2 linked regions of the Homo sapiens genome follow. The protein of the gene in region 2 interacts with the protein of the main gene of each other region in a pairwise test. Each region holds a gene or a part of one and is shown on either strand. Other genes may lie near its edges.

Region 1 (3,650 bases), on a different chromosome or scaffold from region 2:
CTGCATTAAAGGACCTATGAGATGGTCTATAGCAGCAGCAGGAGGGATTTAAGCTAGATGTCCAGAAGTATTTCCCAATGGGAAGGCTGCTAAGCACTCTCCCAGGACAGGAATGTGATCTATGACTCACAGGTCTTATACTCTAAGTCCCCTGCTCAGCCCGCACTATGTTTATATATACGTATGCACAAGCTTGACTTTTCCATAAGTACACACAATTGAGGGAAACTGGTCTAGTATTTATTTGGTGAAACTTGATGTCCTCTCCCCTGGGTGCTGGGTCATGGTGCTGACCAGGCATCGCCTGAATGACTGGATTAGCAGCCATGTCAACAAGCCTTTGCTCTCCAGACAATGTGCCAAGCTGTAGGTAACAGGCTGGGGACACCAAGTCCCAAAGGAATTATAGAGATCGGTAATAGCCTAGTGGAGCACACTCTAAACGCCAAAGGTGTGGCTCAGCAGGAACCTAGCAACTCAGAGGGAGGTGTCCAAGAAGCCGATCACGGAGGCTCCGAGTGGGGAGGGGAGACTGCAGACCCAGCTTGAGGTGCACCTCATGGTTGTTTGGTTTCTAATGGGGGAGTTCTGGGCAGGCCCAAGAGGAGACATTTTGGGGTCCCTGGAACTGCTCTCTTTTCCCAAGAATCTGTCCTGAAATGGGTACCCAGAGCCACAGGCCTGTTAGAACTTGTCACATGGAGAACATGACTTTTAATTAGGGACAAGGTCTTGAGGAAGGGGCCTTCGCAGAGTCTCTTTTGCCCCCAAGAGCCTCTCACAGGCCAAGGATGGGGCTCCAGGAATCCCTAGCCCAGTGGAGAGCAGGGTCAAGGAAGGGGTAAGAGTTCATCCATCTGCCCTGAGATGGCATTTTATCTCCCAGAAGCTGCAGGCTCAGCTGTCCAGGCCCTCCTGGGCCAGGACCTTCTGGACCGAACACAGGCCCCAGTCCTCCTCCCCTGCAGGTCCAGGCTTAATGGTTTTACATGGTGAACAGTTCTCAGGGACCCAAACCTTGAGCCTCCCTGGATTAAATGAGGCTGAGCCCCTGAGTCTAGAAGTAACTGGGGGGCCTCCTTCCACCCTCTACCTCCATGTAGGGCTGCAGAAGAACCAGCAGGAACAAATATGGCAATTTAATTTTTACAGTTTCCAGATGGAAAGAAAGGAAACTTGTTTTAAGGGCTGTATGGCATGATGGTTAGGAACAAAAGGTGAAGGTTTGATTGCTAGCTGTGCCATCTACTAGCTTGTGGCCTTTCACACACGCACACACGCACACAAAAAAACCGTCAAGGATGAATGAGGGTTGATTTGATTCTTAAGGGCCTAAATCATCTGGAGAATGGGGACAAGCAATAACACCAACCTTGCAGGATTGACCTGAAGAATAAATGAACCAATAATATAAAATGCTTGGAACAACACCAGCACGTAGTAAGCACTAAAACGAAACAAACAAACAAAAGAGCTGGCTATTATTACTAAACACCCTTCCGGCAATGGCAGGGTCATCATTTCCACATAGGAAGAGTTTACAGCAGTGAGTACGTGGAAGGAAGATCTTCAAGACTTGTTTTGAAAACCGATTTGCACAGCAAGCAAACTTTTGTTCCTTTTTCAATTTTTTCTTATGCTGTAAGAGGATCACGGACATATTTTCTTCATAGAGTTTAAATGAAATGATACGTATAATGTGCTTAGAACTGTGCCTGTCACTTAGCAAGCACTCAGTAAATCCTACTTGTTTATTTGGGGTGGCTGGAGAGAGTGCTGGAGATTATAATGAAAGATATACAGTAGGGGCACCATTAGGCCCCCACTATGGCCAGGATGCCTCTTGTTAGGAGGTTCTGTTCTGTTCCATAGTCAACATTAGTCTTCCCTGCTATGGGGTAAACTGGCATTTAGACATAAGAATTTCCAGACAATCAATCAGGGTGTCAGACCTGGGCCAAGCTCCCAAGAAAGCTTCCTGCAGCTCTTCCCCCGGAGGTGCTCATTGGTCAAAAGAATGCACATCATGACCTCTGAAAGGTCCTTGCTGCCTCAGGACTCTGACTGCAGCATTTGAGCTCCTGGTCCAAAGACCAGCGCTATCCAGCCCACAATGGATGAGCTGGGTTTATGGCTGGGGAGAGACACGGGAGCTGGAATGTAAAACAAATGGACCGTAAGCACCTTGTGTGCTCTCTCTGGCTGTGGAGTATACAGACACACACTTTCACCTGCTCCCCTGCTCCAGGCCTGGCCTGGCCCCCTCCCAGAGGGGCCCCCCGGATTGGAGAAAGGGTCAGAGGACTCAGGAACACTGGGAGCACTCCCTTTACCATGGTAAGGAGTTGAACACACTATGCTGCCTCTGAAAACAACAGAACAGCAGAGTCAGCCTCGCCCCATTAGCCACCCACTCGGGACACTTTACCTCGTGGATCCCAAAGTGGGCATAGGAGTCGAAGTAATAATCTCTCGAGGTCATCTCCTCTGGGTTCAGCAGCTTGGACATCTTGCCCCGTCCTGGGCAGCTGGGTTGAGTGGACACATGATGGACGCATTGCACGGGCTTAGCAGGGACGACGGGCTGGGGGGGCTGGGAGGGGGGGCTGTTCACCTGAGGGGAAGAGAAGGGGGTCGGGTGTTAGGAGAGACAACGGGGTCCCGCCCTCGGAGGCTTGCGGTCCTCTTTCCTTCCCCCTCCCTGAGCCCGGCCTCAAGCAGCCACAGCAGCCCTTCCTGAAAGGGAGGTAGGTGAGCCCTTCCAGCTCCCAGCAGTTGGGCTCATGGCTGTGATCTGTCCAGAGATGGCAGTCCACCGAGGAGCCACACACACCTAGATTTCACCCACCTTCAGCTCTTATTAGCTAGGTGACCTGAGCAATGCAGGCCTCAGTTTCTGTATCTGTGAAATGGGGAAAATAGTATCTTCCTTTGAAGGCAAATAGGAAACATTCAATAAAGGGAAAGATGCATAGCACAGCATGGTGCCTGAGAGTGTAGATTCCGGAGCTGAATCCCAGCTCTGCCATTTCCCAGCTATACAACTTTGGGCAAACTTATGAACTTCTCAGTGCCTCAGTTTCCTTTTCTCTAAAATGGGAATAAAATGGTCCCTGCCTCCTAGAGTTGTCCTGAGGATTAGACAAGTTTGTATTTCAAAGTGCTTAGAAAAGGGCCAGGCATATAGTAAGAGTTTGTTAGAGGAAACGAAGTCCCACCTGCATCCTCAGGAACGTGAACCCATGGGCTTCTCTCCACTCAACAGGCAGCATCAAGCTAGAAGAGGATACGGCCCCCAAAATGCAGATGTCTTAGGTTCTGGTGTCTCCTACCTGTTGTCTTGCCCCCTAGTTTCTGATTCACAGTTCTACCCTGAATTCAGCACTGTGGATACCCACACTGATGGCCTCCACACAACCAATTATTGCTATTTCTGGGTGCCCCAATCCTGAGGCCCAGCCCAGCTCTACACCCACTGCTGCTGCCCATCACTGTCTGCTCCCTGGTCCTCCACAGGCTAGGCGGAGCAGGGAGAAGGAGATGGGGGTCCACAGAGCTTCTGGAGCCCAGAGACAGCAATTGGAGCCCAGAAGCTCAAACACTGCAACAGAAGCAGTTATGCCAGGAGACCTCCTCTGCCTGGAGTGCAG
Region 2 (3,650 bases):
TAAATCATTATATATCAATAAAAGGGGGGGAAAATAAATATGAACATTTTTCATGACTAGAAAAAGTCCTTTTAAAATAAAGCTCTATAAAGTCTACACATTTGGAAAAAGGTAGACAATATTATCTTTATACTCTGTGGTTAAGTATGATAGTTTTTATTTAAGAACTATGGCTTAAATATAACATAAGCCTCATAATATCTGTGAAATAAATGTCAGTCTCATATCTTTAGGTAAACTGAAATATATGAACAGATACTTCCATCAAGAAACTAAGAGAAATTGGGAAAAATTTATCTTATCTCTAATGCTGTATTTTTAATGATCAGACTATGCTGATTTCTCTTTAACTCAATTTTACAATATTACATTTATAACGCTGGGAAAATAACATTTATGGCACTATGGCATCATGATACTACTTTTCCTACCTCTTCCAGACTATTCCTTAATACAAAATCACTTGATAGAATGCTTATAGTTGCCCTCTGACACCCTATTCCTATGGAGGATAAGGCCAGAGAGGTTCTCTGTAAGGCTGTATGGATTGTTACTTACGAAAGGCACTTTAAGTATTTTTCATTAACGTAGTCAAATAGTCCTTTTTTTTCTCAGCGATCTGAAGTTAAGTTACAGACTTCATTACATTTTGCCCCTAAATACTTCAAATGCCACTTTGGGAGGTCAAAGTGGGTGGATCACTTGAGGTCAGAAGTTCGAGACCAACCTGGCCAACATGGTGAAACCCCATCTCTACCAAAAATATAAAAATTAGTCAGGCATGGTGGCGTGCACCTGTAATCCCAGCTACTTGGAAGGCTGAGACAGAAGAATCGCTTGAACCTGGGAGGCAGAGGTTGCAGTGAGCTGAGACAGCCTGGGTGACAGAAGGAGACTGTCTCAAAGAAACAAAACCTTCAGATGCTTCAACATACATCTCTTTAGAATAAGGGCATTTCTCACAAAACCATAACATTTTATACCTAAGAAAATTTATAGTAATTTCTTAGTATCTAATAGCCAGTCCATATTCAAACTTCCCGAATTGAGGAATTTATTTTTAATTAAGATGGTATTAAATAATTACACTTGGTGAGATAATTCTTTCTTGATGTTTTTCTCCCTGACCTTCTTTCTTAAAATTGAAGCCTACAGACAAGATGAACACAATAAACATTCATATATTTTTCAACTTGATAACCCAAAAGGTGGCTGATTTGCCACCTTTTTCTTTTTCTTGGATATACCATTTGAAAGTAGATTGTAGATAAAAGTCCTATTTTAATGCTATTTTTATAAGTGACAAACAGTACAGAAGACAGGCCACATGGTAATGCTCATAGATATTCTAAGTAGATATACCTATTTTTCAAAAAGGAAGACACATTTATTTGAGGAAATGCTGATGAGTTGGCAGCATTCCCTATAATAATTCTTAGAAGACTATGCTCCATCAGAGCAAGAGCTGTGTATCTCTCTTTTCATTATTTTATTCCAGTGCCTGATTGTCTATTGACCTGAATCATTATTTGTTAATAAAAGGTCATGGGGCAGGAAGAATGCCTAAGGATAACTGTCAGCTGGGACTTGGGGACTCGGTTCAACATCCAAGTTCAAGTACTAGGGTCCTAATCATGTTAGACATATACCTCACCACCTGTGACAAATTTAGAGACTTATTTGAGAAGTATAGGGACAAACTGTAAAAATATTTATTTATATGGTGTAGTTTTAAAGTAGAAAAATTAAATATATAGTATTATCTTCTTTAAAAAAATTAAATATATAGTATTATCTTCTTTAAAAAAGAAATCAAGCCAATAATAGTTTCCCATTTCTATCACCAAGCTGAAAAAGTTAAAACATTTCCAAATAAAACAATGTTAACTTTAATCTCATTAAAGTCAAAACGAGTTTATTCAAGTCAAAAGATAAAACAGATTTGTCATCTACCTCTTGAGTTGCTATTTTACGATTTAGTTCAGCTACTTTGGAAGAAGAATTTTCTACTGCATTTTGGCAAAGGAGTTTCTCTATTTCTCTCTGATGAGATGCTTTGAGGGATGCAATGTGTGCTGCAGTATCTTCCTTGACCCTACAGAGCAAATGAAAGAAAACCACACATAAAAGTGGCTCTTCAACCTCTAATTCAGAGTTAGCACAAAAACAGTAGAAGAAACCTGGGAATTAAGCAAGGGGAAAATGGGCACCAATATTAACTGCACTGTGTTAGGTGCTTTATACATTACTACTGCCTATGAGTTCTTATGACCAATCCATGAGCTACTATTTACTGAATTTTATAAGGGCAAACTTGAGGAAATAGTGATATATCTCTACTTTACCCCAACCTGAGGCTACACTTTCTGAGGGAATCTAGGGTTCCAAAAGCAAAGCACTTGACATTTGATCTTTTAAGATAAACTCAGATTTCTTGCCCAGATGCTTCTTTGGAAAATCACAGCTGTTCCCTTTAGAATCTCCAATGCCTTGTAGGCAGCATTAACCAATTTTCAACCCATGCATGAGACTCCAGGGCTAGTTGCATATTGTGAGAATGAGACAATCTTTATGGTAATTCTCAGGACATATTATGCTTGTAATATGCAATTAATTAATTGGACTGTAAGTGTGAAAGACTATTCATTTGTCTCTGTGATAAAATTTATTCAGAGGCAGTTCAGTAAATGGTTAAAATTATAAATAAAGATTTGGTATATTTCCTACAGATAAACATTTTCTCTCTTATTGGAAAGACTTTGAAAATAACAGCATTTAACTTAAAGCATGTATTTTAGTAAACTGCTGTTGCTATATATTAATATGGTGCTTCCCAACTATAGACAAATTTATCCATTGCTTATTTCACCATATGAATATTTCTCCATGGAAACAGTGTGAGTAGGGTCCTAGAAAAAGCATAAAAACCTAAATTAAAGCACATATAACTGAATGATAGTAAAAAGTCTAAATATTGGACTAGAAAAGTTTATTCTTCACTTCTCAGGCCCAGACTTATCTAAGAAACAGATTGACAATATTAACAAATTTTAAATGATGTACAGGAAAATTAATTGGAAAACCTGAATTTTAAATTCTTTCCTGGAAAAAATGTGATTCTTCTTAAAGAGCTTCATGCTACTGTCATAATATTCAGGACTTAAGAAACAAGCTTTCCATTTGGTAGCAATATGACTGCCATATGGTAACAACATGACTCACTCACTGCCATGGCTGCCAGTCAATAAGCATTTGTTGGGTGTTTCCCATGCTCATTCTCCTCCTACAGCACATTGCTGTGGGGATGCAAAAGCAGCATAATCTTACACCAGTTCTCAAGGAACTACAAGGCTGTGTATGATTAATCCTTTCTTGGTACATATTAGTAAGTTATGTAGGAGTTGGGGGTAGGAGAAGGCAATTTCCTGGGAAGTTCCACGAAATGTTTTGTGAAGGTAGTACTTATAACAAGAATGAGGAAAAGGCATGAGGAAATGTGACAGATTAGGTAAGTAGAGTAGTATTAGAATAGTGATGAGACTTGAGATGCTAGGCAGAGAAATTTAGTCTTGATATTTAAGGAAGTTGAGAGTCACCGGAGAGCAGAGTGACCCAGGTATATGAGTATTTAAAGAATATTAATGATTTTT

Evidence for each region.
Region 1: the proteins of CEP162 (region 2) and PRMT8 interact in a two-hybrid assay, tested with the Homo sapiens proteins (one large-scale study listed by BioGRID and IntAct).

The regions. Positions count from the first base shown.
Region 1 is NC_000012.12:3,539,570-3,543,219, reverse strand, and holds part of PRMT8 (protein arginine N-methyltransferase 8), read right to left. Parts: intron 2,615-3,650; coding exon 2,429-2,614; intron 1-2,428. UniProt on the Homo sapiens protein: S-adenosyl-L-methionine-dependent and membrane-associated arginine methyltransferase that can both catalyze the formation of omega-N monomethylarginine (MMA) and asymmetrical dimethylarginine (aDMA) in proteins such as NIFK, myelin basic protein, histone H4, H2A and H2A/H2B dimer.
Region 2 is NC_000006.12:84,147,609-84,151,258, forward strand, and holds part of CEP162 (centrosomal protein of 162 kDa), read right to left. Parts: intron 2,096-3,650; coding exon 1,954-2,095; intron 1-1,953. UniProt on the Homo sapiens protein: Required to promote assembly of the transition zone in primary cilia. Acts by specifically recognizing and binding the axonemal microtubule.